Linked DNA regions of Homo sapiens. The protein of the gene in region 1 interacts with the protein of each later gene in a pairwise test. Each region holds a gene or a part of one and is shown in the gene's direction. Other genes may lie near its edges. The genes, in order: UBE2E2, TRIM37, RNF166, ZNRF2, TRIM38, RNF10 and TBC1D1.

What was found.
Region 2: the proteins of UBE2E2 (region 1) and TRIM37 interact in a two-hybrid assay, tested with the Homo sapiens proteins (one study listed by BioGRID).
Region 3: the proteins of UBE2E2 (region 1) and RNF166 interact in a two-hybrid assay, tested with the Homo sapiens proteins (one large-scale study listed by BioGRID and IntAct).
Region 4: the proteins of UBE2E2 (region 1) and ZNRF2 interact in a two-hybrid assay, tested with the Homo sapiens proteins (one study listed by BioGRID).
Region 5: the proteins of UBE2E2 (region 1) and TRIM38 interact in a two-hybrid assay, tested with the Homo sapiens proteins (one study listed by BioGRID).
Region 6: the proteins of UBE2E2 (region 1) and RNF10 interact in a two-hybrid assay, tested with the Homo sapiens proteins (one large-scale study listed by BioGRID and IntAct).
Region 7: the proteins of UBE2E2 (region 1) and TBC1D1 interact in a two-hybrid assay, tested with the Homo sapiens proteins (one large-scale study listed by IntAct).

What each region holds. Positions count from the first base shown.
Region 1 is NC_000003.12:23,206,327-23,209,826, forward strand, and holds part of UBE2E2 (ubiquitin-conjugating enzyme E2 E2), read left to right. Parts: intron 1-2,365; 5' UTR 2,366-2,373; coding exon 2,374-2,549; intron 2,550-3,500.
Region 2 is NC_000017.11:59,047,881-59,051,380, reverse strand, and holds part of TRIM37 (E3 ubiquitin-protein ligase TRIM37), read left to right. Parts: intron 1-52; coding exon 53-167; intron 168-1,987; coding exon 1,988-2,203; intron 2,204-3,500. UniProt on the Homo sapiens protein: E3 ubiquitin-protein ligase required to prevent centriole reduplication. Probably acts by ubiquitinating positive regulators of centriole reduplication.
Region 3 is NC_000016.10:88,696,409-88,699,908, reverse strand, and holds the end of RNF166 (E3 ubiquitin-protein ligase RNF166), read left to right. Parts: exon of another isoform or gene 1-175; intron 176-176; coding exon 177-289; intron 290-823; coding exon 824-938; intron 939-1,299; coding exon 1,300-1,407; intron 1,408-1,793; coding exon of another isoform or gene 1,794-1,975; intron 1,976-2,275; coding exon 2,276-2,341; 3' UTR 2,342-3,408; downstream 3,409-3,500. UniProt on the Homo sapiens protein: E3 ubiquitin-protein ligase that promotes the ubiquitination of different substrates. In turn, participates in different biological processes including interferon production or autophagy.
Region 4 is NC_000007.14:30,364,597-30,368,189, forward strand, and holds the end of ZNRF2 (E3 ubiquitin-protein ligase ZNRF2), read left to right. Parts: intron 1-1,343; exon of another isoform or gene 1,344-1,408; intron 1,409-1,438; 3' UTR 1,439-3,093; downstream 3,094-3,593. UniProt on the Homo sapiens protein: E3 ubiquitin-protein ligase that plays a role in the establishment and maintenance of neuronal transmission and plasticity. Ubiquitinates the Na(+)/K(+) ATPase alpha-1 subunit/ATP1A1 and thereby influences its endocytosis and/or degradation.
Region 5 is NC_000006.12:25,979,802-25,983,301, forward strand, and holds part of TRIM38 (E3 ubiquitin-protein ligase TRIM38), read left to right. Parts: intron 1-3,362; coding exon 3,363-3,500. UniProt on the Homo sapiens protein: E3 ubiquitin-protein and E3 SUMO-protein ligase that acts as a regulator of innate immunity. Acts as a negative regulator of type I interferon IFN-beta production by catalyzing 'Lys-48'-linked polyubiquitination of AZI2/NAP1, leading to its degradation.
Region 6 is NC_000012.12:120,540,856-120,544,355, forward strand, and holds part of RNF10 (E3 ubiquitin-protein ligase RNF10), read left to right. Parts: intron 1-3,500. UniProt on the Homo sapiens protein: E3 ubiquitin-protein ligase that catalyzes monoubiquitination of 40S ribosomal proteins RPS2/us5 and RPS3/us3 in response to ribosome stalling.
Region 7 is NC_000004.12:38,048,084-38,051,583, forward strand, and holds part of TBC1D1 (TBC1 domain family member 1), read left to right. Parts: intron 1-1,534; coding exon 1,535-1,815; intron 1,816-3,500. UniProt on the Homo sapiens protein: May act as a GTPase-activating protein for Rab family protein(s). May play a role in the cell cycle and differentiation of various tissues.

The sequences.
Region 1 (3,500 bases):
GAATTTAGAGTGAAATAAAAATGAAAAAAAGCAAGAAATATGTTACGACTTTTAGAGCTAGATGTGAAACATACTGATATAAAATTTCAGTGTTCTATTAAGTGACTTTAGTGCTCATAAAAGATGTCACAGCTGTGGAGACTGGTGCTCTTCATTTACAGAATAGGTAGAAAAGTAGTCAGCTTTTCCGTTAGTATGTTTCAGAGCTGTTGGGGCAGATCTGTTTCTGTTTGGCATGGGGAGCTGTTGGGGTTGAAGGGGTGCTGGTGGTGGTGTGTGTGGTGTGTCAGTGAAAGGATTCACTATTTTCTGTTGACTCTTTGTGGCTCTGTGCTTCCTGATGCTTCCATTCTTTTGCAGTGCTTTTTGGTTTGTCTTACAAAAATTTCAGTCCATTAAAGATCGGTGTTACAACATTGCTTTGGCTTAGAGCAAGCTACAAGTTAAATCTTTAGTGATGATGAATTTTCATCAGTGTCAAATAGCTATCCATTTGGACTAAGTTATAGTAATTAAAAAATTTTGCTTTATTTGAGGTATCTTTACCTGTTCTTATTCTTGATCATATCAGAAACAGTTTTATTTCAAGTTGTAATTTGATTAAGAGTAATCAAAAGGATCCATTTCAAAAGGAATTTGTTCAGTGTACCTATAATTTTTAAAGATATATTTTTTGCTGTTAATGGTACTTATTAAGTATAGGTATTTTGTTTTTAAAAAGGTGTCTGAGAAGATAGCTATACAGTGCTGAAAGTGATTATTAGGTGACAAAACCATGGGGAGCACAAGGCCTTTTAGAGTCTGGGCATGAGTTTTGTTGGTTCAGTTCTGGATTTGTCAGAACACTTTAAGCTAGTCAGCTCATAAGGGATGTATTCATAGTCATCAAACTCAGAAATTGATTATGATAGAATGACAGTTGAGGAGAGATACTCCTTTTCACTTACTGGAATTGTTTGTGTCTGCTGTCTAGATTATAACAGCTACCTAAATATCAAGGTATTGAGGAAATTGAGTTGGTAATCAGAACTGCTTGGGGGGCCTGAACTCAGAGCAAAGGGAATTTGAAAGCCTTGAGGGATATTTTAGCCAGAATGTGGGGAAAAAAAAAAAAATCTTCAGTGTCTTCATCTCTTGTGAAATATGGTTGCTTTAGTATATAGCTGAATGCTGTCATATGGTTCAATTTTTATTTAGAATCATGCAGTCATGCAGGCCTCTGTGTTCTTCTGTTATCACAAAGGTTACTTAAAACCACTTACTAGTTTGGAGAATTTTAACCTTAGCCCAGCCCTGAGGATGTATTGATTGAATAGGGATTTGAAAGTGTCGTCCCATTTTTGTGTTCCCACAAGTATTTGTACTAACCTTCGTTTTTGTACTTAGCAAGTTGGCTAGTCGAGGTTTTTCACAGTTGTGGGACCAAAGGGCTTAGCACAGCGCCTGGTAGAGAGTAGACCCTTAATCATTTTTGTCTTATTTTCTGTAACAGCATTATTGATATATAATTCACATACTATAAAATTTACCCTTTAAAAATGTACAACTCTGTAGTTCTTAGAATATTTATTATTAGAATTGTGCAAGATTATAATTATCTAATTTAAGAACATTTTTATCACCGCACAGGGAAGCATCATACCCATTAGCCGTCACTCTTCACTACTCTCCCCTCACTCCCTGGCAACCACTTACCCATTTTATTTTTTTATTAATTTTTTTTTTGAGACAGGGTCTTGCTCTGTCACTCAGGCTGGAATGCAGTGGTATCAATCATATTTTTATTTTTTGTAGAGATCGAGTCCCACTACGTTGCCCAGGCTGGTGCTCCCTGAGCTTCCCAAAACATTGGGGATTACAGGCGTGAGGTTCACTACTGAATTTTATGTTTATGGATTTGCCTGTTCAGGACATTTCATATAAATAGTCAAACAGTTTGTGGTCCTTTGTGGCTGGCTTCTTTCACTTACCAGAATGTTTCAAGGTTCATCCATTTTGTAGCATGTAGACACAGTACTTCATTCTTTTTTATGGCTAACAGTACATTATGTGAATATACTACTATATTTTGTTCATCCATTCATTTGTTAGTGGATATTTGAGTTGTTTCCAGTTTTGATTATTATGAATAATGTTGCTATGAACATTTCATGTATAAATTTTGTATGTTTTCATTTTAGAATACATTTTGAATGGATGAAGGAAAAGTTTTAGCAACTCCCAAAGCTGCATTGTTTTGTAAATGACCAATTTAATCCATTTTATATTGAGATTTACTTGTTTTACTTTGAGGCTCATTCTCTGTGTTCTGGAGGTAGCTTACTGTAGTACAGCTAAATAAATGATTTTTGATTCTTTAATCCAGGATCTAAAATGTCCACTGAGGCACAAAGAGTTGATGACAGTCCAAGCACTAGTGGAGGAAGTTCCGATGGAGATCAACGTGAAAGTGTTCAGCAAGAACCAGAAAGAGAACAAGTTCAGCCCAAGAAAAAGGAGGGAAAAATATCCAGCAAAACCGCTGCTAAATTGTCAACTAGTGCTAAAAGGTACTTCAGTTATTATAACCTTTTTATTGTTGGTATCAATTTATCATCTTAAGTTCTATTTTTCTCTTGCATTTAATCATTTTTTCTGGGATGTCGGCCGTGAACTTCATGGATTTTTCTTTTCCCTTCAAGATGATCTCGTTTACATGGTTTTAACCATAGGGAACTTCAGTATTTAAAGTCAGTTAAATGGCAAGGCAAATTCATAACATACATTTCCATAGTGTGTTTGTGTGTTTATGTATTATCAGGGAAACATATACAGGGTGTGTATGTAAAATTGCAGTAGTTTCATTTATGGTTACTTGACCATAAATATTTTTTTTCTGTTCAGTAACACAGAATAGAGATTAGGAATCTTTGAAGTAGTTACTGAGTGAGTGACAGTTTATTTTCCACTACTCCCAGTTGGTAAAGTCAGAAATGCTGACATTAGCAACAGGTGCATCTTGGTTTCATTACATTAGTCAGTGGATCCATCTTGATACGGATTTTCTCTTTCTCTAGAGAATAGATGGATCTGGAAAGTAGGTATTTGAATGATTTTCTGTTGGTACTCAATCTCTTAAAATGATTGGCATGTCACTGGACTTAAAGGGAATCTGTTTGATATTGTTACATTATAGAATATCTCTTGGAAAATAATTTGAAAGATAAATTAAATGTAGTGTCTTTCCTGATCCTGTGATTTTATGTTCTTGCTTTGTTTTCATATATTTTACATTGACCAAGTCGGAAGTATACATAAAAGCGATCTGTAACTTGTAGGCATAGTGGAATGCCTGAATGTTGTATTACAGCTTTATATGTTATTTTATGGTGTGGGTTAAGGGGAACTCCTTTCTCAAAGATAAAAAACCATTATTTTGTTCTAGTAGACCTTGTTTTCCTTTGGCTTAGTCAGTCTACAGGGTTGGAAAGAACCTTCTCAGGACCCTTGGTGAGAGATGT
Region 2 (3,500 bases), on another chromosome or scaffold:
ATAATGTTTTACTATTTGAATTTTTTTTTTAATGTGGCACAATTCTTTTAAGGTTTCAGGTACGTTCACCAACTTTCTTTCAAAAATCCCGGGACCAGCATTGGTACATTACTCAGTTGGAAGCTGCACAGACTAGTTATATCCAACAAATAAACAACCTTAAAGAGGTAAGAAAATATCTATTTCTGTTTTGGTGTTTCCTATTGTCCTTTTGGCTTGTTATATTTGTAATTAGATTTTATATATTTTATTGCTATTTGTAATTTTGTAATTTGTAATTAGAAAAAAAATCTAGTTATCTTGTTCCCCATCCTTACCAGTTCTGCAGTGTCCAGTTTAGTAGACACTAGCCACATACGGCCATGTAAATTTTTATTTTACTTTATTTATTTATTTTTTTTGAGAAGGAGTCTCGCTCTGTTGCCCAGGCTGGAGTGCAGTGGTGCAATCTCGGCTCACTGCAAGCTCCGCCTCCTGGGTTCACGCCATTCTCCTGCCTCAGCCTCCTGAGTAGCTGGGACTACAGGCGCCTGCCACCACACCGGGCTAATTTTTTTGTATTTTTAGTAGAGACAGGGTTTCACAGTGTTAGCCAGGATGGTCTCGATGTCCTGACCTCGTGATCTGCCCACCTCGGCCTCCCAAAGTGCTGGGATTACAGGCATGAGCCACCACGCCCTGCCACTTTATTTTTATTTTTTTTTATTTTGGAGACAGGTCGGACTCACTCTTGTTGCCAGGCACAATTTCCACTAACTGCAGCTTCAACTTCCCAAGCTCGGGTGATCTTCCCACCTTAGCCTCCCAGGTAGCTGGGACTACGAGCATGTGTCATGGCTAGTTTTTGTTTTTGTGGAGATGGGTTTCTCCATGTTGCCCAAGCTGGTCTTGAACTCCTGGGCTCAAGCAGTCTGCCTGCCTTGGCCTCCCAAAGTGCTGGGATTACAGGTGTGAGCCACTGTGCCTGGTCTGTAAATTTAGCTTAATTAAAATTAAAAATTTAGTTCCTTAGTTGCAGTAGCCACATTTCAAGTGCTTGCATTGGTTACTGCAAATCTAGAGCATTTCCATCATTGCATAAAGTTGTTTTGAACAGTGTGGCTGTAGTTTGAGGTAAGCTGTTTGTGTTTCTGTCAGTGACTTAGTTTCTCTTCCACAAGTTATCTTGGATTTAGAGGATTCTAGGCTATAGCACAATTAAAAGTTGTCCCATCTTGAACTCTTACTATTGTTGAATGAGCACTGGGGAAGATTAATTGATGAATTTTTATTTTACAGTGGTAAACTAAGGAATGTTTCATTTCCCTTAGGAAGTTAGGGTGTGGCAGGAGGTTTGGAGTGCTGAGAGTCGTTAATAGGTCAGGGAGGAAAATGTGAATAAATACATGCTTTCAGAGATTTTCATGTTAAATGTGCTATTTAAAACTGCCTGTATTCACTATACTGTTTGCTAATTGTATGTTTAGCTTAGGCTGGATATGAAAGAAGGAGGATGAGCATAAATGGGGCAGTTTATCTTTGTCATCAATTTTTTTTTATAAATAAAAGGCAGTAGGGATTCAGAGAAATGGTTTAAGAAATGGTGCCAAGTGAGGTGGCTCATTCCTGTAATCCCAGCATGTTGGGAGGCCGAGGCCAGAGGAACATTTGAGCCCAGGGGTTCAAAACCAGCTTGAGCAACATAGCAAGATACCGTCTCTAAAAATAAATAAAAATGAAATTAGCCAAGCATGGTGGCACACACCTCCAGTCCCAGCCACTTGAGAGGCTGAGGCAGTAGGATCGTTTGAGCCCAGTAGTTCAAGGCTTGCAGTGAGCTATGATGGCACCACTGCACTTCAGCCTGGGCAACAGAGTGAGACCATTCTCAAAAAATAAATAAAGCAATGGTTTTAGAAACATCTGGATGCATTTTTTTTTCACTTGAGACATCTTTTACTGTGCCAGTGAGCTGTGGCTAATATTTGTGCTTTTCTTGTTTTAAAAGAGACTTACTATTGAGCTGTCTCGAACTCAGAAGTCAAGAGATTTGTCACCACCAGATAACCATCTTAGCCCCCAAAATGATGATGCTCTGGAGACACGAGCTAAGAAGTCTGCATGCTCTGACATGCTTCTCGAAGGTGGTCCTACTACAGCTTCTGTAAGAGAGGCCAAAGAGGATGAAGAAGATGAGGAGAAGATTCAGAATGAAGATTATCATGTAATAATGAGGCCAGTTTTAGATTTTTGTGTTTGATTAAAAAAAAACAGTAGCATCATGGCTTTTAACATATTATGTGCTAAAACAGTAGGCTAAAAATATTGTCCATTGATTTCCATTAGTAATGTATGTATGCCCTTATGTAAATGTTAATAAGTCAGAAGTTGTTGAATCAAAGCATTTCAAGGTTGTGAAAAAAACAATACATTGTATAAAACAAACCGTGATACACATTTTAAAACCTAAACTACCATACATTGTGGATTTTAAAAATGTGTTCTGGCCGGGTGCGGTGGCTCACACCTGTAATCCCAGCACTTTGGGAGGCCAAGGTGGGTGGATCACATGAGGTCAGGAGTTCGAGACTATCCTGGCCAACATGGCCAAACCCTGTCTCTACGAAAAATACAAAAATTAGCTGGGTGTGGTGGTGCTTGCCTGTAATCCCAGCTACTTGGGAGGCTGAGGTAGGAGAATCACTTGAACCTAGGAGGCGGAGGTTGCAGTGAGCCAAGATTGTGCCACTGCACTCCAGCCTGGGAGACAGAGCAAGACTCTGTCTCAAAGAAAAAGAAAAAAAAAAGGTGTTCTATTTTCATTCACTGAAACTAGTACATGCCTTATCATTACTTACGTAGGTAGACTGATTTAGGATTCGGTAGCTAGCCAGGTTCTATCCCAGCTAAACAACAGTCAGAATCCAGAATAAGAGTTCAAGAAGTAGTTGATATTTTTACATAAGAAGGGATGCATAGACAGTTGGTTTTTTTGTAGTAATTTTTAAGATGAGAGACTTCAGTTTTAAGTTAAAATGAAGGACCCAGTGGGTCGAGAGAATGCACAGATTAAGTGCTTTGATAAACTAGAGATAATAGGGTTTGGAATGGAGCAGTCAGGTGAAGCAGTTAACCTTTGATAAACTGAGTTAAAGGAAGGGTGGAGTTTGCAGGTAAGGCAGCTGAAAAGTTGGGGAAGTTTTTGCTTAATAGTGGGTATTTTTTTTCTGTGCAGATAGGTGACAGTGTTAATTAATGACCTTGATAATGGTAAAATTAGGTAGAATTGAGGAGTGATGGTTTGAAACGTTACTCTGTGAGGAAGCTGATGTGGAATATGTGAAGGATTCCAGTCACACTGAGGGCCCAGCTGAAGGCGGCACGCATAAGTTAGTAAAATGATATCAGTCAGTGTGGTTGTGTGATTTTTCTCTACAGGGCTCAGCAGCTGAGGCACAGGAGCAGAAAATAGATTTTTGAAAACTGTATTATTCTTTGGTGCTTGGTTTATGGGCTGGATG
Region 3 (3,500 bases), on another chromosome or scaffold:
TGGCTGCTCAGTGCCTGAGATTGTTTTAGCAGCAGAAGGGACCGGGTCCCCCTGCTGCTGGCAACACAGACGCTTGCTTACAGTTCTCTGGTCCTGGACACCTGAGGTCTCGGCCTCCCCAGGACGGCCCTTCCAGATTCTCAGGACCGCCTTGCCCTCCCTGCCCTGTCTCCTAGGTGACCCTGGCAAAGATGAGAGTGCACATTTCGTCCTGCCTGAAGGTCCAGGAGCAGATGGCCAACTGCCCCAAGTTCGTCCCCGTGGTGCCCACATCACAGCCTATCCCCAGGTAGGCACGCTGCCGGGCAAGGGAGAGGAACTGTCCTCGGCGGTTTCCTCGTTCTGGGAGCAAGCGCAGTGCCCCATCCCAGAGAGGCTGGGGGAGTCACCCGGGGCCGGGTCCACTCTGGGGAAGTGGACCTTCCTTGCCACCCTGCAGGAAGGCTCCTGTGCTGCCCTCCCTGGCATACCCACCAGGCCCCCTGGGGTAGGGACAGCTCAGCTGTGGGGAGCAGGAGGAGGGCGCAGGCCGGGCCCACACATCGCCTCCCAGCAGGTGGATGGGCCGAGAGACGGCTCCTGCCAGGGCAGCGCCAGCAGAGTCTCTGCCGTTTGGCTGGCCTAGTTGTGTGGGGTGGACGAGGGTCCTGGGTGTGTCCTCAGGAGGCCATGGCGTGCAGAGGCACGGGGGGCACCCAGCCACTGCCACGCTCTTGCAGCCTACAGAGGGCAGGCCTGGGGCCACGCCTGTGTTTGAGAGAAGCGGGGAGGCAGAGCCCCTAGACACCTAGCCGTGCCACTCACTCTACCCCCGCCCCGCCAGCAACATCCCCAACAGGTCCACCTTCGCCTGCCCGTACTGTGGTGCCCGCAACCTGGACCAGCAGGAGCTGGTGAAGCACTGTGTGGAAAGCCACCGCAGCGACCCCAACCGCGTGGTGAGCAGTGCCTGCCCCAAGCGACGCCTGCGCCAGGGGAGGCCTGTGGGGGACAGTACAAGGCCCAGGAGCCTGCTCGCGGCGAGTCCGGGGGTGCCCAGGCCACAAAGGCCTCCTGGGACCCAGGGTGGGAACTTGGCTGCCCGAGCAGCACCTGGCGGAAACCGGGGAGTGTCCATGAGTCCTTCAGGGTGACGCGCACTGAATAACTCGCTTGTCACCGGGACACGCGCCTCCAGGTCTGGGGTGCCTTCCCAGGCTGAGGCAGCACTGACGGGGCTCAGTGGAGGGCCCCCAGTCCTACTGCGGCTACCCCGCCTCTCCGCGGTCCGGCTCGGCTTGACCCCAGTGCCTGTTCCAGGTGTGCCCCATCTGCTCGGCAATGCCCTGGGGGGACCCCAGCTACAAGAGCGCCAACTTCCTGCAGCACCTGCTTCACCGACACAAGTTCTCCTACGACACCTTTGTGGTAGGCATCCCGCCAGCACCGTCCTCCCCCACGCCCTCCTCATCCACCCTCCTCCTGCTCGGGCCCCTCGCCAGCCTCAGGGTCCGCAGGGTTCAGAGGAAGCCAGAAACAGAAGCCTCGTTTCAGGTGGCCACATTCCCCCAGGTTCTGTGGGGGCTGCCTGCAGGTGGGGAGTGATGGCAGCTGAGTTTGAGTGGCCACTAGAGGGTGCCCAGGCCTCTCGGGGACATGGACCGCACAGGGCAGGTCCCTGCCTGCCCACCCCACAGAACCCCTCGAGGGTGAGCCAGGCTTCCTTCTGGAAGCTTTCTAGAGAGCGCGGGAAGGACTTTCATCAACATCGAACACTCCAGCCCTGTCTCCTTTTCCCACCCGCCGCGGGTCAGGCACACACCTGGCCCCCGGGCCTGCAGACCCTCGCACAAACTCCTCACTCCTGGTGCGGCCCCTCCCTGCGCCGCCCTGTTCATTCCTGGCCCTGGCTAACAGTCCTGGCGATGGCTGTCACTCCCTCTGCCAGTCGTCCGGGACCCACGCTCCGCCTGCCTCAGGATGGAAATTGTTAGAGGTCAGGGAGCCCTGGCCGGCCTGCTCACCTCGGAAACCCCGGGCTTAGAGTCCGACCTGAACCAGCAGCCATCCATTCCGAGTGCCCCCGTACCCAGCGGGTGATGGACACACCTTCACCTTCTCACCCCCCAGAGGACCGTGCAGGCCCCGAGCCTGTGGGGACAGTGGAGCTGGGTCCTTCCTGTGTCCTGCTGGAGGGAGGCAGGAAGGGTGGACACGCCTGTGTGGGTGATGGGCAGAGGGGACCTCTCCTTCCTGTCTCCCTCGAGCCCGGTGCATCTCTCCTTCCTGTCTCCAGGACTACAGTATTGACGAGGAGGCCGCCTTCCAGGCTGCTCTGGCCCTGTCTCTCTCTGAGAACTGAAGGGAAGCGCAGCCACCCGCCTGCGTCTGGGGTCAGGGATGTCCCCGCTCCTGTGTCGCACCTGGCACCTGCTCGGGAGCGCACCTCACCGGACTGAGCTCACAGGAGGAGCCTGCACCCGCGCAGAAGGGGAGCCGGGGCCGAGCCTCCGGGCCTGAATACGGGCCAGCCGCCGAGGCCGCCAGAGCAGGGCCGCCTGGTCCCACCGGCGTCGCTGGGTTCTTCGGTGCTTCTGGCCGAGCAGGCGGCCTACTTGGGCAGGGCTGGACGCTGGGACCTGGAGCTGCCGCCGTCTCTTCAAAGCCATGATACCCCCTCGTGGGAAGAAGGGACCGACGCGCGAGTCGCGCTCCGCAGTCGAGCCGGGAGGAACCCAGGCTGCTGCCCTGCCCAGCCCGACCCTGCCCCGGCCCCACTTCCACCTTGCGCATTTGGTACTGGCTTTTGTGATACTTAGGAACCCTGGCATCTTTTCTATATTATCCAGTGTGATAATCTTTTCACGTTTTATAGAGCAAAGACAGAGCAGTTACTCTTCATATTGCAATATCTGTGTTTGACTAGGAATAATAGTATTTTTATGGAACATTTACAAAATTATATTTTTTAAGAAAACAATCAAAACAAGCATTGGGGGATTGGGGCAAGGATGGAAGGAGCAGTGGGGCAGCTGCCAGAGCTCAGGCGAGCCATGGGGTCTGCTGTGGGGTCTGCCCTGGCCACCCACTGTGTGTCTGGGTCCTTGAGGTTTGTACGTTTCTCTTTGATGACCAGGAAGAAATCCCAGCACCCCAGCCACAGGCTGTGGCTGCTCCCAGCAGAGGCGGGGCCGGCAGAGAAGGGGCCTCCTCCACCCAGAGTCCTGGCCTTGGCCCGCTGTCACCTTCAAAGCTGACTGTGCCCCGCTGCGGGAGGGGACGGCACCCCAGTGGTGGCAGAGCTTGGGGGCCTGGGCAGGGGCCCGCTTGGCGGGCCGGGCAACACGTCAACATTCTTTTCTGTTCTTGGCATTAATTATTGCTGTCTTTTTTTTAAAAAAAAAAGTTTAAATAAAATGTCTCAGAGCATCTCTAGCAGCCTCGACTGGCTTTTGTGCTCCACGGTGTGGAATCGCCAGCTGCTGTCTGTGTTGGAGGTCGGCTGTGTCCTCCCCAGGCAG
Region 4 (3,593 bases), on another chromosome or scaffold:
AGGTTTGGAATGCCTTCATTGTCACCTTATGTTTGAGACAAAACGAAACTGTGGCTAAAATTATAGAAGCATTTTAAGGGAAGTACTGAAACTGATGCTAACAAAATGAAATTTTTGTCTTAGTATTTTACATGCCAAAGTAATACATCTAAATCCTTCATCTATAGATAAAATTTGTCTTTTTAGTCTTTCTTAGTGCATTTTGGGCTGCTATAACAAAATACCTTAGATGAGTAATTTATACATGACAGAAATTTAGTGCTCACAGTTCTGGAAGCTGGGAAGTCTAAGATCAAGGTTCCAGCCAGTAGATCTGGTGTCTGATGAGGGCTCATTGCTCATTTATGGCACCTTCTGTGTGTCCTCACGTGGTGGGATAACAGACTCCCTCAAGCTTCTATAAGGATACTAACTGCATTCATGTGGTCAGAGCCCTCATCACCTAATCATGTCCCAAAGGCCCCACCTCTTAATACTATAGCACTGCAGATTAGGTTTTAACATAGCAATTTTGGGAGTACACAAACATTTAGACCATAGAGCTGATAAGCTTTTTTTTTTTTTTTTTTTTTTTTTGGTGAGGTGGAATTATATTGTATAAATTTTTTTTCTTTCATCAGCTAAATTTTTCCTTTAGTGTCACAGTGAGCTTATGGGATATGTGGAGCATACATCTCATCTCATAGCTGAAATGCATATGTCTGTTGGTCTTCAACAACATTTCCATTTTCTTATGTTACATATGAGTGTTATATTTGCTTATTTGTTTGTTTTCGAATATAGAACCTGAATTTGAAACTAGCCTACTACATGGGCAGGGTGAACTCTGTTAATCAGGTGTCTACAGAAATCTGAACCAATGGAGTCTGCTTCTGTGGGTCTTGAAGAGTCATTTTTAAGAGTTTATAGACATGGAATATCTTGACTTGTACATTTTTGCTTCTGTCCTGACTGTTCTTATTTATCAAGTGATAAATTCTTGTATACCTTTTAATAGTCCTAGATTAAAGGTATATGGGTTTGAGGAGGATTCAGTGTTGTTAAAACATTTTGTAAGGCACTGTGTAGCCATAAAGCTCAACGTTTCTGATATCCTTCAGCATAAGAATTTAATAATCAACCCAAAATAGAGAGACATGAATATTTGTGGTCTTGATTAGTTAGAAAATTGCTGTACTTATTTTGGGGTTTTTAGTTATTTGGGAGAAATATTTTAAATCTCCGTGTGTGTGCATTCTTTACTTGCGTGTAGTCCTTATTGTGAAAGGGGGATGACTTTGTTATGTATTTTTTGTGACTAAACTTTAATTGATCCTTCTGTTTCTTAATCTGTTCTTCTCCAGATCACTGATTTTATGAGTTTTCAGAATAGTAAGTAAGGGTATGAAGACTTACAGTAACTAAAGCAATGTTCATGGGGAAATCTATTTTTACACAGGTTTTCTTGTCTTGACAAGATGCTTGAAAAACCAAGAGGATATGAAAATCTGTCTCTGGAGAAACAAAGACGCAGGCATACTCAGCCAGAAATCTGAGTTTTGTGAGACTTGGTAATACAGAGATGGACAATCGTACTGGGGTAAAAAAACCCTGCTGAAGAGAGGACAGTGACCACAGAACTCAGTGTACCAAACATGCATACAAAGGACACACAGGGATTTTGAAAATGCTGCACATCCCTTAATAGTCATCTACATAGGTAATACTGATAAACATTTTGTATTCAGACGCCAAAGTTAACTGATTTAAAAGTTGATTTACTTTTTATTAAGTTCTCCAGAGCTGCACAACTAGTTATGTTTTGATTTGTTTTGTTTTTTAATTTGGGGTCTCTTTGTTTTCCCCAACATAATGTTCATAATGTTTCTGCATTCATCTGTTCTTAAATTGAAAAACATATAATTTACTTCTTATAAATTGAAGTCTTAAATGTGAAACCAAGAAATGTAATCAAGCAGTAAAAACATCTGAATGTAGACCATGATCTCAAGTTCTTCCATTTTCTCCCCCACGAGTGGAAAATAGACTTCTACATAGGAAAGCTAAAATATGTTAATATTTTTAAATTAAAGGTTTAATATCAGAATGCAGTCCAAAGAGCAAATCATATTACATAATTACATTTTAATTAAATATAGAATATTCTACTGAATTGCAATTTATTAAATATTCTTATCCTCTTAAATAAAACTGCTCAACAGTTAATCAGCAGTGAATCATCTTGCAGCTATGCAATTTAAAAAAAATACAGATTACCAATTTCAAGTGCTGCCAGCTAAAATAACTGTTTTAACGGGTATCTTTTGTTTGTTCTTTTCACTTAATTATTTTATTGTGCTTTGCATCTCCAGGCAGTTCTCTCACATTTGGGTAAAATGTTTAGCAGGCTGTAAACTTAAGAAAAGGGTAAAATAAAATTTTCTGGAGAGGAACTTGGAATTTGAGGGAGATTTTATATACCTTTAAAAACTGTAATTTAATTGGGATGCCAGGTTTATAGCAATTTGCAACTTTAATTTTCCAGATAATCTGGAGGTTAGCATTTGATAAATGATTTTTTAAAGTAGATATGAAGATTTTGTTAATTTATAATTTATTCATGTGTTATTACTGTAATTGAAAATGTTATAGACACTTTTAAATTCAGTTTGTGTAGAAAGAAATGTGTTAAACAAAATTATGTTAATAAATATTCCCACATAATACATCTGAATGGTTAAAAATACTGGAAGAGTTGTCAGGGCTACAATAGTGAATGTCCTTTTTTTTAATATCAAAAATATCGATAAGTAGGTTTTGTGTTTTCAACGTAGGGAAAATGTTATCAGTGAATAGGTGGTGTACTTTACTTGGTATAATTTAAAGTTGCACAGTAAGTACTGTTTCCTTATTTTAATCTTTCTTTACTCATAATGTATTTAAGAATTTGCTGTTTTATTTAACGCTGCTACTCTTAATCTTCTCTAAATTTTTCCCCCTACTTTCTTGCTTCTGTTTCACATTTTTTAAAAGGGCAAGTACAGGAGCAACTGCTGCTACCCAGAAAAATGTGTGTATTATAAATAATTAAAGAGTTTTTAATTGCTTTCTGTATGATTCCAGCTCAGATAACATTTTCCCTGAAGTTATGCTGTGAAATGCCTTTTGTTATGCTGCAATTGCTAAAGGAATCCAAAACCTCCATTGTGACAGCTGAAGGCACAGTTTAATAGGTGCTTTTTTACTAGTTATGAAAAATATTCGTCCCTTAAGGAAACGATTCTTTTTCTGTTTTTTTCTGTTACCATGAAGTCTTAATTTGATTTCATTTTATTTCACATTTTTGATTTTGTAAGCTTTCATACCCTCCTGCTCAACCCCCTCAAGTAAAACCTCTTAGAATGTGAATAATTGGTTCATTTTCTATTGCTGGTATACTCTTGTGATGAGAATTATTTTGTTGTCTTCCATTCTTAAAGGAAGAGATTTATTACAGCTGTGGGGATTAACTGTATTCTCCTGGAAGTTGATTTTCTGATAGGTTAATGCAAAAGTCATTGCAAAAACTGCTATTACTTTTGCGCCAATTTAATAGTTCACTTGTTTACTTTTTA
Region 5 (3,500 bases), on another chromosome or scaffold:
TTTAATTTTTCTAAGATAAGCATTTAAAGCCTACAAATTTTCCTTAAAATTCTGCTTTAGCTTCATTGTATATTTTTATAAATAACTTTTTATTATTGTTCCATTCTATACATCTTCTAATGACTTATTAGTAGTTTACATTTCCTAATATTTAGAATCTTTTTAGTCATCTTTTTATTATTGGTTTATAATCTTATATTGAGGCTAGAGAAAATGATCTGTGTAATACAGATTTATTGAAACTTGTTCAGACTGTTTTCTGCCTAGTATTTACTCAGTTAGTGCATGTTCCATCTATACCTGAGAAAACTGCATATTCTCTGCTTACTATTATTAAACAATTGCTGAGCTTTATGTATTGACTATGAGATTGCGCTTCTTAGATTGTTCAGACCTTCCGTATCTTCCCTTATTTCTTTCTTTTGGTCTGCCTGATCTATCAATTATGGAAAGAAGAATGTTAAAACATCCCATGATGATTGTAGATTTGTCCATTTCTCCTATAATTCTACAATTTTTGCTTTGTATATTAACACAATTCTAAACATGAATTCACTAATAATGTAGTACATTTATGTTTAAAATTGTGTTATCTTTTTTAGGTGACTCCTTTCATTCTTTCTTTTTTTTTTTTTTTGAGACAGAATCTCTCTCTGTCACCCAGGCTGTAGTGTAGTGGCGAAATCTCAGCTCACTGCAACCTCTGCCTCCCCGGTTCAAGTGATTCTTGTGCTTCAGCCTCCCAAGTAGCTGGGATTACAGGCATGTGCCACAATGCCCAGCTAATTGTTGTATTTTTGGTAGAGCCAGGGTTTTGCCATGTTGGGCAGGCTGGTCTTGAACTCCTGGCTTCAAGTGATCCGCCTGCCTTGGCCTCCCAAAGTGCTGGGATTACAGGCATGAGCCACCACACCTGGCCCTTCTTCCATTCTTAATAATGCTCTGACTTAATATCTTTTGATATAATACTATAACAGTATATGACTATATTATCTATCTTTTAGCTTCCAATCTTTCTATATGTTTTTGTTGATGTGTCACACCAATAGATAGGTGGAATTTTAAAAATCCAATTGATATTTTTTCTCTTAAGTGGTATTACCACCCCGTAAACATTTTAATTTCTCAACATGGGTTTTCCTGGGTCATTCAGGTAATATGAATTGAAACCCCAAACTTCTGTGAGTCAGGCTGATAAAAGCTAACTGAATAGAGTTTGAAAAAGGAGGGTATTTACAAAGGTGAGGAGTTGGGAAATCCACAAGGAACAGGAAGCACCCAGAACTAGGAACAGTTAGAGAGCCATCACCTCCTCTGGGCCTCAAGTGGCAGGTGTAGGGAGCTGTAACTATACTAGAGTGTGCCCAGAGGCAGAGGAATGCAGACCCTCCAAATCATAGCGTGGGACTGGGGTACTGAATACTCCCAAGGCTGCTTCTTTGTGCCCTATGGTCTCCTCTGGTGCTTCCCATTGGCTGAACCAAGCCAGAGGGCGGAAAGCCTGGTTAATCTGTCCATGTCAGCCTTCCTGGGCACAGAGCAAGACAGGGAAAAGTGAGGGATTATTTGGAAGAACAAACAGAGAGCATCCAGCACAGGAAGTGTTTCTGAATACTTGAATTCCTTAATTGTCACAGACCAACTGATCAACATTTAACTCAGTAGCACAGTGGTTTCTTAACTCTCTTGTTAGAACATCCTATTACCATTTTTTATTTTTAAAACTGCATACTGTTCAGTATCTCACTTTAGGTTATCAGATCTTTTTTCTGTCTTGTTTGATTCTAGTCTGATATTTTTCATGTATATTGGTCCTCAGTGTATTATTATCTCATACTAATGCTTATGGAACATTATCTGAGGGGAAAGAGAAGAGCTTACAATTAAAAGTCATGGGACTAGGCATGTGTCATGAGACCTGGGTCTTCCAATAACAAGCTAAGACATTAGCTGAGTCATTTTCCCTCTCTGATTCTCAATGTTGGTGGTTATTCAGTAGAGAAGGGAAAAGGTATCTTTCTGCTCAACTGTCTCATGATTCCTGGAAGTCCTGCATGGGAGAAGAACTTTGGACAGGATGGTAACCATATTAACAGGTTAGTTCTGTACCTTGGCATCCTTGAATAATTAAGACGAAGATGATGTTGATGATATCATTATTACTACATGTTGTTAGAAGAGCTGAAGCAGGACTGGCTTGTCTGTCATAATGTAAAAGAGTCTTGGAAGATGTCCGGGGTCCAGGGTCCAAAACCCCTCGTGGCCTTTGGAACACCAAGCTCTGTGCCAAATGGTGGAAGGCTGCCCTGCCGCACCACAAATCTAAGCCTAGGGCATAAAACCCCTTGTGGCTTGGATGGAACCCAGGGCTCAGGGCATAAAACCCCTCATAGCCTCTGGAAAGTGCACAGACTTGTTGGTTCCTTGCTTTTCACTCATAAACGTGTCCTCTACTATCTCAAGCAGCAGAGTATATTCTACATGTGTCAAAGAAAATGCTAAACTGTCACAGCTACGCTTAATGCACCACTACCTTTCTACCCCCATGTCCTCATGCCCTCACCTGTTTACCCTCACGTCCTCACCACCTGCTTCTTTGTTTGATCACCAATAAATAGTGTGGGCTCCCAGAGCTTAGGGCCTTTGCAGCCTCCAATCTAGTGCTGGCACCCTGGACCCACTTTATGCACTCTTAACTTGTCTTTTCTCATTCCTTTGACCCCGCCGGACTTTGTAGCCCCCACGGCCTGGTGTTGGGCCTGATCACCCCAACAACTACCACTTATTAGGTGGTTACCATGTACCAGGAATTTTACCAAGCATTAAGCAAACATAAGCTTATTCAATCCTACCCACCATTCTCTGCAACAAATACGGTAATTTCCACTTTATAGTTAACAAACTGAGGCTCAGAAAGTTAAATGATTTGCCTAAGCTCACCCAGTTTATAAGAAACAATAGTTGGGTTTGAACACAGGCTGGTTTTATTGAAAATAACTTGTGGCTGGGCATGGTGGCTCACACCTGTGTAATCCAGCACTTTGGGAGGCCGAGGTGGGTGGAACACTTCAGGTCAGGAGTTTGAGACCAGCCTGGCCAACATGGCGAAACCCCATCTCTACAGAAAATTTAAAAAAATTAGCCACTTGTGGTGGTGCGCACCTGTAGTCGCAGTTACTCCGGAGGCTGAGGCAGGAGAATTGCCTGAATCCAGGAGGTGGAGGTTGCAGTGAGTTGAGATAGTGCCAGTGCACTCCAGCCTGGGTGACAGCAACACTCCATCTCAAAATAAAATAAAATAAAATAACCTGTGTTCTTCACAGCAACAAAATTATTTTTGTTTGTTTTGTTTTGTTTTGCAGTTAGTGTGACTCTGGATCCAGATACAGCTCATCACGAACTAATTCTCTCTGAGGATCGGAGACAAGTGACTCGTGGATACACCCAGGAGAATCAGGACACATCTTCCAGGAGATTTACTGCCTTCCCCTGTGTCTTGG
Region 6 (3,500 bases), on another chromosome or scaffold:
TTTTTTTTTTTTTTTTGAGACAGAGTTTTGCTCTTGTTGCCCAGGCTGGAGTGTAGTGGTGCAGTCTCGGCCTTGCCGCAACCTCCACCTCCCGGGTTCAAGCTATTCTCCTGCCTCAGCCCCCGGAGTAGCTGGGATTACAGGCATGCGCCACCATGCCCAGCTAATTTTTTGTATTTTTAGTAGAGACGGGGTTTCTCCATGTTGGTCAGGCTGGTCTCGAACTCCCGACCTCAGGTGATCCGCCCGCCTCGGCCTCCCAAAGCATTGGGATTATAGGCATGAGCCACCGTGTCTGGCCATTTTACTTTCTTAATAAGCCCTTGCCATGTAGAATCTGGCTTTACCTAAATCTATGCAAACCGTGAGGTGCATCTTGAAAGCAGCAGTTAGGGTCAAACAGGTAGGGTCCAGGATCATCTGAAACAGTCTTGGATAATGAGGTTGGAGGATATGTGTTTTCTTTATATACCTATCCTCGTAGAATCTCCTTTGCTTGAGGTGATGTGAAATGGAGTTAAGGAAAGCAAAGCAAGAGAATGTGGCTGAGTTAGCTGGGGTTCTGCATCCCCTGAGTTTTCCTTTTTTTTTTTTTTTGAGACGGAGTCTCACTCTGTCGCCCAGACTGGAATGCAGTGGCACGATCTCCGCTCACTGCTAGCCCCGCCTCCCGGGTTCACGCCATTCTCCTGCCTCAGCCTCCCGAGCAGCTGGGACTACAGGCGCCCGCCACCAAGCCTGGCTAATTTTTTGTATTTTTAGTAGAGATGGGGTTTCACCATGTTAGCCAGGATGGTCTCTATCTCCTGACTTCGTGATCCACCTGCCTTGGCCTCCCAAAGTGCTGGGATTACAAGCATGAGCCATCGTGCCTGGCTTTTTTTTTTTTAGAGACAAGCTCTCGCTCTGTCACTTAGGCTGGCATGCAGTGGTGCAAACATAACTGACTGAAACCTTGAACTCCTTGGCTTAAGAGATCCTTGAACTCTTGAACCACTGTGCCTGGTTTATCTTTTTCTTTTTTTTTTTGAGATGGAGTCTCACTGTGTCTCCCAGGCTGGAGTGCAGTGGTGCAATCTTGGCTCACTGCAAGCCCCGCCTCCCAGGTTCACACCGTTCTCCTGCCTCAGCCTCCTGAGTAGCTGGGACTACAGGCTCCCGCCACCACGCCTGGTTAATTTTTTGTATTTTTAGTAGAGACAGGGTTTCACCATGTTAGCCAGGATGGTCTTGATCTCCTGACCTCGTGATCCACCCGCCTCAGCATCCCAAAGTGCTGGGATTACAGGCGTGAGCCACCGTGCCTGGCCTTTTTCTTTTTTTGAGACAGAGGCTCACTCTGTAGCCCAGGGTGGAGAGCAGTGGTGCCATCATAGCACACCGCAGCCTCAACCTTGGCTTAAGCAATCCTTCCAACTCAGCCTCTCAGCTAGGACTGCAGGTGTGTGCCACCACATTGGGCTAATTTTTAAATTTTTTGTAGAGATGGGGTCTTGCTATGTTGCCCAGGCTGGTCGCAAACTCGTGGACTCAAGTGATCCTCTTGCTTTGGCTTCCCAAAGTGTTGAGACAACCGGCATGAGCCACCAAGTCCAGCGCTGAAACTTTGCTTTCTAATTGTTACTACTAGTGCCATGTTTGACACTAACTGTTGCTAACTGAAGTAATAGGTAAAAGTTTAGTTTTTAAGTTCTAACTTTATTTATTTGTTTTTTGAGACAGAGTCTCACTCTGCTGCCCAGGCTGGAGTGCAGTGGCGTGATTTCAGCTCACTGCAACCTCTGCCTCCCGGGTTCAAATGATTCTCATGCCTTAGCCTCCCAAGTAGCTGGGATTACAGGCGTGTGGCACCACACCTGGCTAATGTTTGTATTTCTAGTAAAGATGGGGCTTCACCATGTTGGCCAGGCTGGTCTCGAACTTCTGGCCTCATGTGATCTGCCTGCCTTGGCCTCCCAAAGTGCTGGGATTACAGGGAGCCACCATGCCTGGCCTTAAATTGTAACTAAGGTAAGGGTCACTGTCCGTAAGCAGGATTTAAGGGTAACTGGTAGGAGTGAACCTAGCCTGTTTCTGTGACTGTTCTGTTTACATTGCTGCCATTTCACATGGTTTAGATTGACTCCCAGGTTTTAGGTGGTCAGGTTTGGAGAGAATGACATCTCATTTATACAGTGAGGTTGACAGACTATGGGCGTGAAGTGGTTGCTTTCAAAATTTGGTCTCTGATTTATTAACTTACATTTTCTTCTTTCTGAGGCATTGTTTAACCTTGAATTTATTTAGCCTGCTATAAAAAGCTGGTGATTGTACTTACCAAGAAATAATTTTTTCTAAGTTTAAAAAAAATTACTCAGATAATATTACAGGTCTGCAGACAGGTACTTTAGTATAGTTATATCAGAATCTTAGAGGGTGAGGCCTGAGCATAGGAATTCCGTAAAAGCTCATCTGTGTGATTCCTATGAACTGGCAAGATTGAGAATCATTGTAATAAGATAAAAGTGGGGCCAGACCCCATGGCTCATGCTTATAATCCCAGCACTTTGGGAGGCTGAGGTGGGAAGATCACCTGAGCCTGGAGGATCGCCTGAGCCCAGGAGTTTGAGACCAGCCTGGGCAACATAGTGAGACCCCCGTCTGCACAAAAAAATTTAAAAATTAGGTCGGGCCTGATGGCTCACGCCTGTAATCCCAGCACTTTGGGAGGCTGAGGCTGGTGGATCGCTTGAGCTCAGGAGTTTGAGACCCATCTGGGCAACATGGCAAAACCCCGTCTATATCAAAAATATAAATTAAGCCAAGAATGGTGTATATGCCTGGAGTCCCAGCTACTTGGGGGGCTGAGGCAGGAGGATTGCTTGAACCCAGGAGTTGGAGGCTGCAGTAAGCCGAGATCATGCCACTGCACTCCAGCCTGGGTGACAAAAGTAAGATCCTGTCTCAAAATAAATTTAAAAATTAGCTGGGTGTGGTGGTGCACACCTGCAGTCCTAGCTGGGAGGCTGAGTTGGAAAGATGCTAAGCTGAGGTTGAGGCTGCAGTGTGCTATGATGGCACCACTGCTTTCCACCCTGGGGGAATAAAACATGCTGGGCATGGTGGCTCATGCCTGTAATCCCAGTACTTTGGGAGGCCGAGGTGAGTGGATCACTTGAGGTCAGGAGGTCGAGACCAGCCTGGCCAATGTGGCGAAACTCCATCTCTACTAAAAATACAGAATTAGCCAGGCGTGGTGGCTCATGCCTGTAATCCTAGCTACTTGGGAGGCCAAGGCAGGAGAATTGCTGGAACCCGGGAGGTAGAGGTTGCAGTGAGCCGAGATTGCGCCACTGCACTCCAGCCTGGGCAATAGAGTGAGACTGTTAAAAACAAAAAAAAGATAAACCAGGCATGGTGGTTCATGCCTTTAATCCTAACAGTTTGGAAGGCCGAGGCAGGATTGCTTGAGTCCAGGAGTTGGAAACCAATCAGGGTAACAAAGTGAGACCCCAACTCTA
Region 7 (3,500 bases), on another chromosome or scaffold:
GCTGCTTGTATGTATTGTATATGTTTAAGTGTACTTTACATCTTTCTTTTATTCATCTTGAATTGAGAAACTACTATATTCTATTTTATGTAATTGGATCCCTTCTAAAAAATTGATCACCTAGGAGTTGCAAAGAAACCAAATAGCCCTGAAACTTGACAAATGAAAATGGCCCTTTCAGTTGTCCAATTAAGCTAAGGGTTAGCTCTTTGATATGATTTGGAGGGATATTAGTAAGAATTTAGATCAACAGGTTTGCATGATGGAGATTGTGTTCTGTGATGTATTGTCTTAGAGAGACTTTTAAATCCTTAAAAGAATCTTCACAACTGTTGAGTCCTGAAGAATGAAAAACTTCAGTTATGAAAGTAATCAATATTTCATAGTATGTTGGGAATTTTTTCCTAATTCTTATACAATTAAATGTATGTAACTTCTCCCTTTGGTAAACACATTTCTTTTTTTTTTTTTTTCAAATTAAAACCCTCAATACTTGTTACCTAAAAGGCACTCAACTGTGTAAATGAACAGGTAGAATTCAGTCTCCAGTCCACTGTTAGATGCATTCATTCTTGTTTACTCTATTCCTGTTGATTTATTTTTTCTCTTCCAACAATTTCAATAGGAGCAAGCTGCTACAATTCCTCTTTTTGAATATTTTGAATATATTAAAAATATATTGGCCACTAGCCACGTCCTGGGTGCAGTGTTAAACATCAGTTTGCTTGAGTGGTAGTAGTTCATTCCTTTGAAAAAGCGTGCATCGTGAAGGCATACAACTTTAAAATATTGTCATGATTCTCAACAAATGTTTGAGCACTCACTCCATAGATTTATTGCATACCTAATAAAACAATAACTTATGTTTGTGTAACATTTTACAACATAAAAAGTACTTTTGGTTGTATCATCTTGCTTTGTTCTTGAAACTCAGATACATTTTTACTTTACCCTCTTACAGAAGAAATTGAGGTGCAGAAAGAAATTATTTGCCCTGAATTGCAGCAGTAAGTGCCTACAGAGTGATTTTCCATATTCTAAGAATATTGATACAGTTCTTAATCTCAAATTATGAAGTCGAATCTCAACAGTAGATCAGATTCGGAGAGAGCCTTAAAATGTGGGTTTAACATGAGTGAACACATGTGGCAAAGATAAAGAACTTGGTTAAGCAGTGGAGACAAGTTCTCCAGCACTCACACCCCTTAGAAGCTGCAGTAAACAGTCCTGTTTTCTAGAGAGAGGGCACTATTCATGGCGTTGTTCAGAACGTTACAGATTGTGGCTTATGTCCTTCACTCCTGCACTTGGCCAGTCTCCCCATTTCTCCAGCAAGCCAGCAGTGTGTCCTTGAGGAGCGGGCATTTATTTAATGGACCTTCATTTTCTTCTGCTTTTGGTGGTGGCTTCTAGATGGCATTATAATCAGAACACATACTTAGATACTGCAATGTTTGCCCGTGCAGGAACTAGAGATTTATAAATCCCACATATTCCCCATGGTGTGTCTGATCTGCTGTGTGTTTGCTCCCAGGAGCCATCTGTGTGTGAAAAGGAGGCCTTGCCCATCTCTGAGAGCTCCTTTAAGCTCCTCGGCTCCTCGGAGGACCTGTCCAGTGACTCGGAGAGTCATCTCCCAGAAGAGCCAGCTCCGCTGTCGCCCCAGCAGGCCTTCAGGAGGCGAGCAAACACCCTGAGTCACTTCCCCATCGAATGCCAGGAACCTCCACAACCTGCCCGGGGGTCCCCGGGGGTTTCGCAAAGGAAACTTATGAGGTATCACTCAGTGAGCACAGAGACGCCTCATGAACGAAAGTAAGATTTGTTTAAATTTGTTGCATAAATAGCTGGGGCATATCTGTGACTAGCCAGGTATGTGCATCCCAGGTATGTTTATTGAGTGAGAGAAATGAGTCAGGCTTTACTCTTGGTTTGGAGATAAAACTGGAAGCAGTGACATGTTCGTTCGAGCTGCTTGTGAGTATACAAGCAATGGGTACTTGTATTGTCAGGAAGCAAGTGAAAGTGAGCAAAAATGGTACCTAACATGCATAGTCATTACTCCTCAAACAAAGTAAGAGACGTTGTTGACTGTGGAACTTTGCTGCTGTGAGGAAGAGGGCAAGCGGATGAGTCTCCCCATCTGAAGCCCTGGAGCAGGGTTATAATGGGAGGGAGAGGCGCTGATCCTTACAGGCAGAGCAAGAGAGGTATGCTGGCCTCATAGGGTGACAGGGGTGCTTCAGCTTCTGGTCCTAGCTCTGCCGTGAACTAATTGTGACCTGGACGAATTTGCTAAATTCTCTGAATAACAAAATTGGAGTAGATGTTTTCTAAAATCTCTCACTGTAAGAATTCTAGATTCTTCTAACAAGATTTATTCATTGTAATAGTTGGGTTCCTGTGACCAGTTAGAATCGTCTGGTTATGGAGAAGAGTAATCAGAAGTTCCCCCCATTCCTTCCAAGTGTCCCTTAGTGATTCATTTAACTCTGTGTGCCAGAGACTATAAATGGACACAGTTATCTTTAAAAACAACTTTAAACAATTTTAAAAATCTCTCACCTAATATGAATCAAGGTCACACCTGTGTACAGTCGCTGCCTTCTTCTGACCAGCAGCCGCAGAAGTCCCAGGACCTATGTGTTCGTGTAGTTCATACACGGATCATTGAGAGTGTGAGTTAGTACAGAAGTGTTTGGAATGTTCTGAGTAAAGAAGTGTGAGCATTAACAGTCCTGGATGATGGAGCAGAGCCTCCCAGCTTTGTTTTCTGTCAGCCATTGGAAAGAGTTCTTGGTTCTTTGGAATTCAGCGGGGTAGTGGTGATCCCAAAAGCAGGGGACATGTCAGAAGGTACTGCTTAATAAATACACGCTTTTAGAGACACACATCGTTGGGTTGTAGCTGTGTAAGTTTCTTGTGTTTAACACCCTGTCTGCACATTACTTCTGTGCTGCCTCACCACTGCCTGCCCACTCCTCTGTTGTTGGCGTTTTCAGTGATCATTGAAACATTCCTGTCTGGAGAGTCCTAGTTCTCTTGTGAAGTCTGCTGTTTCTCAAAAGCCAGAGTTGATAGGACTTAGTATCAGTACTTTTCCTTTCTCCATGAAGAATGTAGCTTTATAATAGATGATGTCACACATCCGTAATGGGAGGGATGAGGAGATGCCTGTCTGTCTGCCTCTCTAGCATGGCCCATTCTGCTTTCTTTCCCCCTTGTGAGCTCTTTTCCGATTTATCTACAGGAAATAAGACATTGAAATTCAGGGCAGGATATTGTTCATTTTAAAGGGAAATGTATTTTTTAAAGTTCAGTTTTTTTTTGCTTTTGTTTATACTTTAATTAAAAATTTTTTTTCCTGCCAGTTCCTGAAAAAGAAAATAGAGAAAGAAATATTATTGTTCCTGGGCGAAGTGGCTCACTCCTGTAATCCCAGAGCTTTGGGAGACTGAGGTGGGAGGTTGCTTGAGGCCAAGAGTTCAAGGTCACAGTCA